Homo sapiens: one gene and its partners. The protein of the gene in region 3 interacts with the protein of the main gene of each other region in a pairwise test. Each region holds a gene or a part of one and is shown on either strand. Other genes may lie near its edges. The genes, in order: YIPF1, VSTM1 and TMEM248.

Evidence for each region.
Region 1: the proteins of TMEM248 (region 3) and YIPF1 interact in binary tests that used the Homo sapiens proteins (3 or more experiments, as listed by UniProt).
Region 2: the proteins of TMEM248 (region 3) and VSTM1 interact in binary tests that used the Homo sapiens proteins (3 or more experiments, as listed by UniProt).

Annotation. Positions count from the first base shown.
Region 1 is NC_000001.11:53,869,198-53,872,947, forward strand, and holds part of YIPF1 (protein YIPF1), read right to left. Parts: intron 2,292-3,750; coding exon 2,175-2,291; intron 1-2,174.
Region 2 is NC_000019.10:54,061,989-54,065,738, forward strand, and holds the start of VSTM1 (V-set and transmembrane domain-containing protein 1 isoform 1 precursor), read right to left. Parts: upstream 1,910-3,750; 5' UTR 1,790-1,909; coding exon 1,756-1,789; intron 1-1,755.
Region 3 is NC_000007.14:66,952,098-66,955,847, reverse strand, and holds part of TMEM248 (transmembrane protein 248), read right to left. Parts: intron 2,623-3,750; coding exon 2,479-2,622; intron 347-2,478; coding exon 326-346; 3' UTR 1-325.

The DNA of each region.
Region 1 (3,750 bases), on a different chromosome or scaffold from region 3:
ACATATCTTTCTATGTACACACAGTGAACTAGCTGAAGGCAGGGTTTCTATCTCATGGTTAACATTTATTGCATTAAACTCAAACCAAGGTTACTGGATAAATAATGGGATTGAATATATGTGCACATATTTTTGTGTGTGTGTGTGTGTATAGTAATAGTTAATGTTTATTGAACTCTTTTTGGTACAAACCACTATTCTAAGCTTTTTATATATATTAACTCTTTATTCTTACAATAGTCCTGTAAGATAAATATTATTATTTCCATTTCACCAATGAAGAATCTGAGGCTCAGACATAAAATAGCTTGCCCAACAGAGTAGAAGCTAGTGAGTGGTGGAGCTGGAACTGAAGCTAGCAGTCTAGTTCCAGAACTGGTGCTCTTATCCAGGCTACTTACAGCCTCTCGACAGCAGAGCAGGCAGGGAGAGAGCGAGGGAACTGAGAAAGTGGTACAGGCCAATCTCCGACAAAGCCAAACTTCCTCATTTGGGGGCAGCTGTCATCTGCAAGTCTCTAAAAGCTGTTTTGTTTTTTCTTCTAAATACCCAATACTGACATAAGAAAGGACGTTTTAAAACAAGAATGTCATTCACAAGCCCATCCCTAGGACACATTCATTTCTGCATTTTCCCTTCCAGGCTTTGATCATTTGCAGACTTCTTTCTCCCCGCTTTTTTTTTTTTTTTTTTGAGACAGAGTCTCTCTCTGTTGCCCAGGCTAGAGTGCAGTAGCGTGATCTCGGCTCACTGCAACCTCCGCCTCCTGGGTTCAACCAATTCTCCTGCCTCAGCCTCCTGATTACAGGCATGCGCCACCATGCCTGGATAATTTTTTATTTTTAGTAGAGACGGGTTTCACCATGTTGGTCAGACTGGTCTCGAACTCCTGACCTTGTGATCCACCCACCTTGGCCTCCCAAAGTGCTGGGATTACAGGCTTGAGCCACCGCACCGGGTCTCTTTTTTTTTTTTTTTTTTTTTTTTTTTTTGAGACAGTGACTCGCTCTGTCACCCAGGCTGGAGTGCAGTGGTACGATCACAGCTCACTACAGCCTCAATCTCTGGGCTCAAGTCATCCTCCCAACTCAGCCTCCTGAGTAGCTGGGACTACAGGCATGCACCACCATACCCGGTAACTTTTTTTTAGTTTTTAGTTTTAGAGACAAGGTCTCACTATGTTGCCCAGGCTGATCTCAAACTCCTCAGCTCAAGCAATCCTCCCACCTTGGCCTCCCAAAGTGCTGGGATGACAGGCATGAGCAACCATGTCCAGCCCAGATTTCTCTTCAGCAAAGTTGCTAACAGAATAGGCACCAGTTTGGAATAAGTTATGAATTTTCCACATAGCTCTAGGTGCTTTGTGACTGGCAATTGCAGATGACCCCAGCTAGTTGAGCCATCACAGCCTAAAACAATGTTTCTATTGTCTCCAAAATGTGGATAATACAAATAATGCCACACAGGAGACCTTCACACACACCTTTAAATTATTTTGTACACTTGTCTTAGAATATATTCCAGCTGTGGCCAGGTGTGATGGCTCACACCTGTAATCCTACCTAGCACCTCGGGAGGCCAAGATGGGAGAATCACTTGAGCCCAAGAGTTTGAGATCAGCCTGGGCAACACAGGGAGACCTATCTCTATAAAAAAATAGAAAAATTAGCCAGGTATGGTGTTGCATGCCTATGGTCCCAGCTACTCAGGAGGCTGAGGTGGGAGGATTACTTGAGCCCAGGGAGGTGGAGGCTGCAGTGAGCTGTGATCGTACCACTGCACTCCAGCCTGGGTGACAGAGCGAGTCACTGTCTCAAAAAAAAAAAAAAAAAAAAAAAAGGAATAAACTGCAGTTGCTATTCGGCCTTGATTTACAGCTTTCCCAAAGATTATGTGGACTCATAACATTGTGAATGTACTTAATGCCATTGAATTACACATTTAAATGGTAAATTTTATGTAATATATATTTTACCACTGTAAGAAGAAAAAGATTATGTGGATTTATATAGATGGGTGGTAAACTCATCTACACATTTGAGTAGATACATTGAACCCTAAAACACAAAAGCAGGGCTGCAGCATCTAGAGATGGGGCCCAGGAGCTCAGTGGGTAAAAAGAACTCAAAGCTAGAAACTGACAGCATTCCAAATGAGTCAAGCTATTCACCAACCTTTTCGGAATTCGGGCACATAATGGTACGTCTTCTCTCCCAGATGGATCAAGAAGTTGGAAAGATTCCCACTAATTGCTATGGCAAAGACCAACGTGGCACATATCCAAAAGGGGCCTGCAAAGGAAACCAGAAAATTCAGAAACAAGAAAATGAAGCATAAGCCTTTAGATTCTTACAGAATTTCTTATCTTCCTCTTGTATTCATGTTAGCAAAAGAAAATGAATTTTCTAGATGGGATCAACACTTGCTGAAGGGAAATTTTTTTTTCAAAGGTCAAACACACATCTCAGTAATTAGCTGCCTTAAAGAAGGTGGGGTGTTGGTACTCCAATCCAAAGGCCAAAACGCCTTCCACAATTAGGTGAATGAAGACACTGATTTCTGTATAGCTTCTTTTGTTGGAGGATCACCACCGACAAAGAAAAATTCACAGGCTTTTTATTAAACCTTCCACCAGAATACATGAAGTAAAGATTACTTCGCTTATCTAAGTGCCAAATGTTAGCATCACAGAGAAAGAAGTTAAATCAGACAGAGCTTGTGCAGCATACAGAAAGAGCAGGGCAAACAGAACACATGAGGGCAGAGTCGATTAAACCTACCAGTTCACCACGGTTGTGTTGAGTGTCAGTGTGTGTGTGTGTGTGTGTGTGTGCTTAAGGCTTTTTCTTTTTTTTTTTAATGAAAAAGTAATACAATGCACTATATACACCTACTGTCTACCCACAAAAATTAAAATTAAAAATTAAAAAAAGTAATATATGTATATGGTCCAGTGTTTCAAAAGGTACAAAGGGAATATGGAGAACAGCAAGATCCACTCCCTCTCTGTGCCCCGGCTCTCTATCTTTCCTCCCTAAAGCTCACCAAAGTAAGCAGTTTCTGATGAAACCTGCTAGGAATATTCCACTCATGTATATAAGCAAATGCATGTGTATATGTGCATATTTTATACAGATGATAACATACATATATGTCCTCCTGTGTACCCTTCTATTTTCACCTTAATATAGCCTGGTGAGTCTATCACAGCTACTCATAAAAATCAGCTTGTTCTTTTTCAATGGTTTTAAGATATACCACTGAGCAGATGAGTGGACCATGCTTTACAAACCTCTTTCATTATTTGCATGATTTCGTGAACACTATCCTTGTCTCTCCCCATCTAGAAAAAGTACTATGTAGAACAAATACTATCTTTAGATTGAGAGATTTTAATAAATTGTATGAATTTCATTTTTCAATTTCACTAATATTTTGCAACACCCTTTGGGATAATTTCAGGTACCTTGACACGTCACAAAATTACGAACATTACTGTCATAGGTGAGATGACTAGCAGAAACAGATTAGTACTTTTCAAAGGCAAGCACTGGCCCCTGAAGGTGGGAAAAGGAACACAAGCAATCAAATGGGTATGCTTCAAAAAGTCACCAATATTAGCTCTCCACAAACTGCCTCTTTACTCACTAGACTGAAAGCTTTCTGCTGTAGACAAGGACTAAATCTCACAGTATTATTCTGAGTGACCACACATAAGAGTGGCAAAAAAAACCAACAACAAACAAAAAA
Region 2 (3,750 bases), on a different chromosome or scaffold from region 3:
CTACTAAAAATACAAAAATTAGCCAGGCATGGTGGTCCATGCTTGTAATCCCAGCTACTTGGGAGGCTAAGGCAGGAGAATTGATTGAACCCAGGAGGTGGAGGTTGCAGTGAGAAAGATCATGCCACTGCACTCTAGCCTGGGTGACAGAGCAAGACTCCGCCTCAAGAAAAAAAAAAAATGCCAAGAATTGTCAGCCATCACTAGAAGAGGGGCATAAAACAGACGCTCCTTCATAGTTCTCAGAAGGAATCAACATTGCAAACACCTTGGTTTCAGACTTCTCATCTCCCCAACTTAAAGCAATTCTAATTCCTTTAAGCCACCAGGCTTGTAGTACTTTGGTATGGCAGCCATTGGGGGATGAGGTCAGTCTCCTGGTTGCCCAGCTTACTGTGCTCAGCAGCTGGAGGCTTGGGTATGAACCCGATAGTCATCTCTAAGGCACAAATAGCCGGGTGCAGTGGCTCACACCTGTAATCCCAGCACTTTAGGAGGTTGAAGTGGGTAGATCACCTGAGTTCAGGAGTTTGAGACCAGCCTGGCCAACATGGTGAAACCCCATCTCTACTAAAAACACAAAAAATTAGCCAGGCGTGGTGGCGTGTGCCTATAATCCCAGCTTCTCGGGAGGCGGAGGCAGGAGAATCGCTTGAACCCAGGAGGTGGAGGTTGCAGTGAGCTGAGATCACACCACTGCACTCCAGCCTGGGAGACAAAGCAAGACTCTGTCAAAAAAAAAAAAAAATGCTCATCTAAGGTGCAAATGTGTGTAGGAGACGAGCATTACCCCACAAGGAAGGGCTGCACCCAGAAAAGGAGGAAGGAACTGAAGCAGACGAAGCACGTCGATGTCCACCGCACCCCCCGTGCACCAGGGAGGAACTGGGGCCTTAGGGAGGTGGAGCTCTGCTGGGTCAAGCCTAGAGTTTCTATGTAGTAAAGCCGAGATTATAACCCAGGTCATCCGTTTCACAGTGTGAGCTCTGTCTGAATACATCAGGTTCAATTGGAGGATGGTTAAAATCAGCCTAAGAATCGAGCTGGTCAGAAAATTGTCTTCTTGGGGCCAGGTGTGGTGGCTCACGCCTGTAATCCCAGCACTTTGGGAGGCTGAGGCGGGCGGATCACCTGAGGTCAGGGGCTCGAGACCAGCCTGACCAACATGGTGAAACCCCGTCTCTACTTAAAATACAAAAGTCAGCCGGGTGTGGTGGCCTGCACCTGTAGTCCCACCTACTCGGGAGGCTGAGGCAGGAGAATCGCTTGAACCTGGGAGACGGAGGTTGCAGTGAGCCCAGATCACGCCATTGCACTCCAGCCTGGGCTACAGAGTGAGACTCTGTCTCATAAATAAATGCATACATACATAAATAAATAAATAAGAGAGAGAGAGAAGAAAATTGTCTTTTTGCCCACAGCCTTGCACCCTGTAGATCCCTAAGCCCAGCCCTCCTCTATTCCGACGGAGGATGATGGCAGTACTGCGGTATTTAGCGGCTGCAGACTCGGAGACCCCACAGCAGCTCTGCCTTTCCCAGCGGAGTCTGTCCCCGTGTCTCTGCAGCGCGGCCTCCTCCTCGCTTGCATGTGGGCGGCAGAACTCACAGAACCCACAGCCCAGACCCACCCACCGCAGGTGTGCAACACCTGGAAGTCATTACTTCCACACACCGCATTTCCACCTGGACTGCCACTCCCACATGAGTTTTTCTCACCAGCCCAAGCCCATTCGTCCCAGTCCTGGAGACTCACCGAGGCAAAGCAGGGAGAGGAATTCTGCGGTCATAGCGTCCCTTCTGCCAGAACCAAGGCCCCGCCTTGGGTTTTACCCTTCAAAGGCGGAGCGGGACTGGGCCGGCCGCAGCTCTCCGGCTGCCCGGTTCGTCCCCAGGATGTGCAGATAGAGGAGGTTTTGCTCTGACACTCTGGTTCTCTGCCCCACTCTTGCAGTTTCCTTCTCACAACCGACTCAGGAAACAAGAAGCCGTCGATGATAACTTCTTCCCCATGAATCCGGTGTGTGTGGCCCCACCCGCCCGAGCTCTGTCCTACCTTATCTGAAGTTCTGCCAAGAGTTTTCTGTAAATGTAATTTTTTATTTTAAAACACTAATACCGGCCGGACGCGGTGGCTCACGCCTGTAATCCCAGCACCTTGAGAGGCTGAGGCGGGCGGATCACCTGAGGTCGGGAGTTCAAGACCAGCCTGACCAAAATGGAGAAACCCCCGTCTCTACTAAAAATACAAAATTAGCCAGGCATGGTGGCGCATGCCTGTAATCCCAGCTACTCCGGAGGCTGAGACAGGAGAATGGCTTGAACCCAGGAGGCGGAGGTTGCTGTGAGCCAAGATTGTGCCACTGCACTCCAGCCTGGACAACAACGGTGAAACTGTCTCAAACAAGCAAACAAACAAACATTAATACCTATAGCTTTATAGCTTCCGTGTACCCACTAGCCAGCTCCCCACAATGTTAACCTTTTTTTGGGGGGCGGGGGGGACAGAGTCTTGCTCTGTCACCCAGGCTGGAGTGCAGTGGCGCGATCTCGGCTCACTGCAACCTCTGCCTCATGGGTTTAAGGATTCTCCTGCCTCAGACTCCCAAGTAGCTGGGATTACAAGCATGCACCACCACACCCAGCTAATTTTTTGTAGAGATGGGATTTCACCATGTGGGCCAGGCTGGTCTTGAACTCCTGGTCTCTAGTGACCCGCCCACCTCAGCCTCCCAAAGTGCTGGGATTACAGGCATAAGCCACTGTGCCCGGCCAATGGTAATCTCTTATAATTACAGTACTTTTTTTTTTTTTTTTTTTTTTTGAGACAGAATCTCTGTCAGCCAGGCTGGAGTGCAGTGGCACAATCTTGGCTCACTGCAACCTCTGCCTCCCGGGTTCAAGCGATTCTCCTGCCTCAGCCTCCCGAGTTGCCGGGATGACAGGTGTCCGCCACCACTCTTGGCTAATTTTTTTTGTTCTTTTTAGTAGAAACGAGGTTTTGCCATGTTGCCCAGGCTGGTCTCGAACTTCTGACCTCAGGCGATCCGCCTGCCTCGGCCTCCCAAACTGCTGGGATTACAGGCGTGAGCCACCACGCCCGGCGTATGGCACATTTTCAAAACCAGAGACTTTGCACTGGCATCACACGTTTAACCAGGTTCCAGAGGTCACTCAGATCTCACCAGTTTGTGCATAATTCGTTTCTCTTTTTCTCTTCCTCTTCCTTCTATTTCTATTTCCTTTTCTCCTTTTCCTTCTTTTCTCCTGCTCTTCCTCCTCTTCCACCTTCTTTTCCTCCTCCCTTTTCTTTGCCTATGGGTATAGTTCTGTAACATTTTATTGCCTGTATGTATGGCTTTATAGAACCACCGCCACAATCAAGACACAGAACTGTCCCACCACCACGTAGGAACTCCCTCATGCTGCCCCTTTATAATCGCTCTCCCACCCTAGCACCTGCTAATCTGTTCTACGTCTCTATCACTTTGTCACTTTGAGACTCTTGTATAAATGGAATCGTCCATCGCCTCACCTTCTGAGGGTGACCTTTTTCACTCAGCACAATGCCTGTGAGATTCATTCAAATGGTTGTGTGTTATGATGATGGATACATTAGCCGGGCGTGGTGGCACACGCCCATAGTCCCAGCTACTCAGGAGGCTGAGGCAGGAGAATCGCTTGAACCCGGGAGGCGGAGGTTGCAGTGAGCTGAGATCACGCCACTGCACTCCAGCCTGGGTCACAGAGC
Region 3 (3,750 bases):
GTGAAAACATCGTCGTGACCAGCTAGATCCAGGAATCCTTCTCTAGAGACACGTGGAAACGTCCCATCAGGTAGGTCCTCAAGTCCAAGGTGGGGTTGAAGGGCTCTGGCTGTACCCAGGGCAAAGCACGTGCATTATTGGACCAATTTCTGAATAGATTTTTATAAATATGTACAAATCAGTTACAGGCACTTGAAATGTCTTTGGCTGGAATAACCCAACATCGCAAGATAATGTATTCACAGAGCATCCAGGCCCAGGCTGGGTTCAGCAGGCAAGGATTATGGTTCTCTCAGTCTCTCTCAAAAAACAAGGAGCTGTGGAATTAGGCTTCAGCCAAAGCCACCTGGAAGACAGCAAGCCAGGGAAACCAGTCAAAAAAGGGAAGCCTAGGTAACTCAGCCCCTACCCAAAGACCAGGATGCCACACTAATTGCACATATCAACCAGACAGTGAAGTTACTAAATCCCTAAAAAGAAAATCTCACCTAGGAAGAAATTACTAGAAATCTCAAAGTCTCCTGCAAGACGCGGCCCATCTGGAACCACTGTGCGGAGACAGAATTAACTGGTTTTTGTTTTTTTGAGACACGGTCTCGCTCTGTTGTCCAGGCTGGAGTGCAGTGGTGCAATCGTAGGTTACTGCAGCTTCCAACTTCTGGGCTCAAGCAATTCTCCTTCCTCAACCTCCCCAGTAGCTGGGAATACAGGCATGCACCATTACATCTGGCTAATTTTTTAACTGTTAGTAGAGAAGGGTTCTCACTATGTTGCCCAGGCTGGTCTTGAACTCGTGGGCTCAAGTGATCCTTCTGCCTCAGCCTCCTAAAAGTCCTGGGATTACAGGTCCACCTAGCTGAGGTAACTGTCTTTAAACCTTGATAAGCATTCTGTTAGAAGACTTCTTATGCTGATGGAACTACAGAGGAGGCAGCTACCCAGAGTCAGTAGTGCTCCAGTGGAGACTTGAGAACAACTGCCAAGTCACTCCCTTTAATAGCAACAGAGGCTTGGGTATATGATTAAAAATCCAACAACATAATTTAGGTTGAGAGTAAAGACACTTCTAATGAAGACAGAAACTACCGCTGGCCTTCTGTAATTGTGGGTTTCATATCCACAGATTCAACCAAAAATACACAAAAGAGGGCTGGGCATGGTAGCTCACACCTGTAATCACCTGTAATCTTTGAGAGGCCAATGTGGGTGGATTGCTTGAGCCCAGGAATTCAAGACCAGCCTAGGCAATGTGGCGAAACCCTGTCTTTTCAAAAAATACAAAAATTAACCAGGTGTGGTGATGCATGCCTGTGGTCCCAGCTACTCAGGAGGTTGACGATCGCTTGAGCCTGGGAGGTCAAGGCTGCAGTGAACTATGATTGAGTCATGAGCTACGATCGCACCACTCTACTCCAGCCTGGGTGACAAAGTGAGACCCTGTCTCAAAAAAAAAAAAAAAAAAAATTAAAAAAGCAAAAATACTCAAAAGAAAAAAAACCAATACATAAGAATACAACAATAAAAATAACACAAGTTTTAAAAATACACTGTAACAACTATTTACATAGTATTTACATTGTATTAGGTATTATAAGTAACCTAGAAGCTGGGCCCAGTGGCTCACGCCTGTGATCCCAGCACTTTGGGAGGCCAAGGCAGGTGGATCACTTGATAACAGCAGTTCGAGACTAGCCTGGACAACATGGTGAAACCCTGTATCTACTAAAAATACAAAAATTAGCTGAGTGTGGTGGCACATGCCTGTAATCCCAGCTACTCTCGAGGCTGAGGCAAGAGAATCACTTGAGCCCAGGAGGCAGAGGTTGCAGTGAGCCAAGATCGTGCCACAGCACTCCAGCCTTGGTGACAGAGCAAAACTCTCTCAAAAAAAAAAAAAAAAAAAAAAAAGAAAGTAATCTAGAGATTAACGTTACAGAGGATGAGCTGGGCACAGTGGCTCACACCTGTAATTCCAGCACTTTGGGAGGCCAAGGCGGGTGGATCACTTGAGGTCAGGAGTTTGAGACCAGCCTGGCCAACATGGTGAGACCCGGTCTCTACTAAAAATGCAAAAACTTAGTGGGACGCGGTGGCTTGCGACTGTAATCCCAGCTCCTCGGGAGGCTGAGGTGGGAGAACTGCTTGAACCTGGGAGGCGGAGGCTGCAGTGAGCCAAGATAGTGCCACTGCACTCCAGCCTGGGAGACAGAGCGAGACTCCATCTCAAAAAAAAAAGTTACAGAGGATGTGCAGAGGTCATATGCAAATACTGTACCATTTTACAGAAGGGATTTGGACATTCATGAATTTCGATATCCACCAGGGTCCTGGAACCAATCCTCCTCGGATACCAAGGGATGACTGTCATTTCTTTAGACGAAAGGTGCCACCCACAATAAATAGAATAAGGATAACTGGGACTTTCTGTATACAGAGACCTCTAGTAAAATGCTGGCCCGGACCCCATCCACCGCTCACCTTCTCGGGACAAAATTCAGGATTGCTCTGACGCAATTTGCTAGGTCTGCCCTTGATAACAGCATAGCAAAACATTGTTATCACCATCACAAAGAGGAAGTAACTGGTGTGCATGAGATGCAAATTTATTAATGAACGGTCATCCTAAATAAAGAAGAGAAAAAAAATCAGAAACATCTGCTCTGAGTGACTGAAAGGTTTTAATGCTGGGTTTTGAGAGACAGGATTGACAGCCTCCAGACTTGCCACAACTTTTCTTCTTAAGCTGCAAGAGGAGGTTTCTCCTTTTGCCTCCTAAATGACCAAAGCTGGGTCTCATTAAGTGAAGACATGGTGCTCCCGAGCCTCTGTTGGAGAGCACCACGCCTTCCTAGCGCTGTCCTCTGCCCTGCCTTCTGCACCCCCACACTGCCTGAACCCTGCCCCTCCAGCAGGCTTCCTCCCCTGCAAATGCTGCAGACACTCCATCTTTAAGCCCCACTCCTTTCTGGACACATCCTCGTCACAAGACTGCCCTCAGGTTGCATGGCTGACAGCCGAGGCTGCATTCCTAACTCCTGACTATGCCCCCACCAGGAAGGCCTCGGCACCTCACCCCTCCCCAGGGGTCACGCCCTTCCTCCTGCTTTTCTCTATTTCCCTAAGTCCTTGGATGAAAATGCTGAGATCATCCGTGATTCACTACCCTTTGACCTCCCACATGCAGTCAATTCCCAGACCCTGCAAGTTACTAAAGGGACCCCAGACATGGTTCCATTCCTTTACCCTCTAGTATCTCCAGGCCTCAGGACAGCTCTGGGCTCCCCCAGGTCATTTATAACATAGCGGGGCAGCTCAGTCTTCTCAACACACTGCTTTACCAACACCCACGCCCCAAACACAGGCAGGGACTGCCCTTGGCCAGGCACTAAGGGCCTCAGCCCACCATCCAGCCTGACCTCCATAGCTGGCTCCTGCAGGACCCTGGCCTACAAATGAGCCCCAGAAAAGGGCAAAGGTCGGGCATAGTGGCTCATGCCTATAATCCCAGCACTTTGGGAGGCTGAGGTGGGAGGATCACCTGAAGTCAGCAGTTCAACACCAACCTGGCCAACATGTCGAAACCTTATCTCTACCAAAAATACAAAAATTAGCTGGGCGTGTTGGCAGGTGCCTGTAATCCCAGCTACTTAGAATCACTTCAATCCAGGAGGCAGAGGTTGCAACGAACCGAGATTGTGCCACTGCACTCCAGCCTGGGTGACAGAGAAAGACTCAATCTCAAAAAATAAA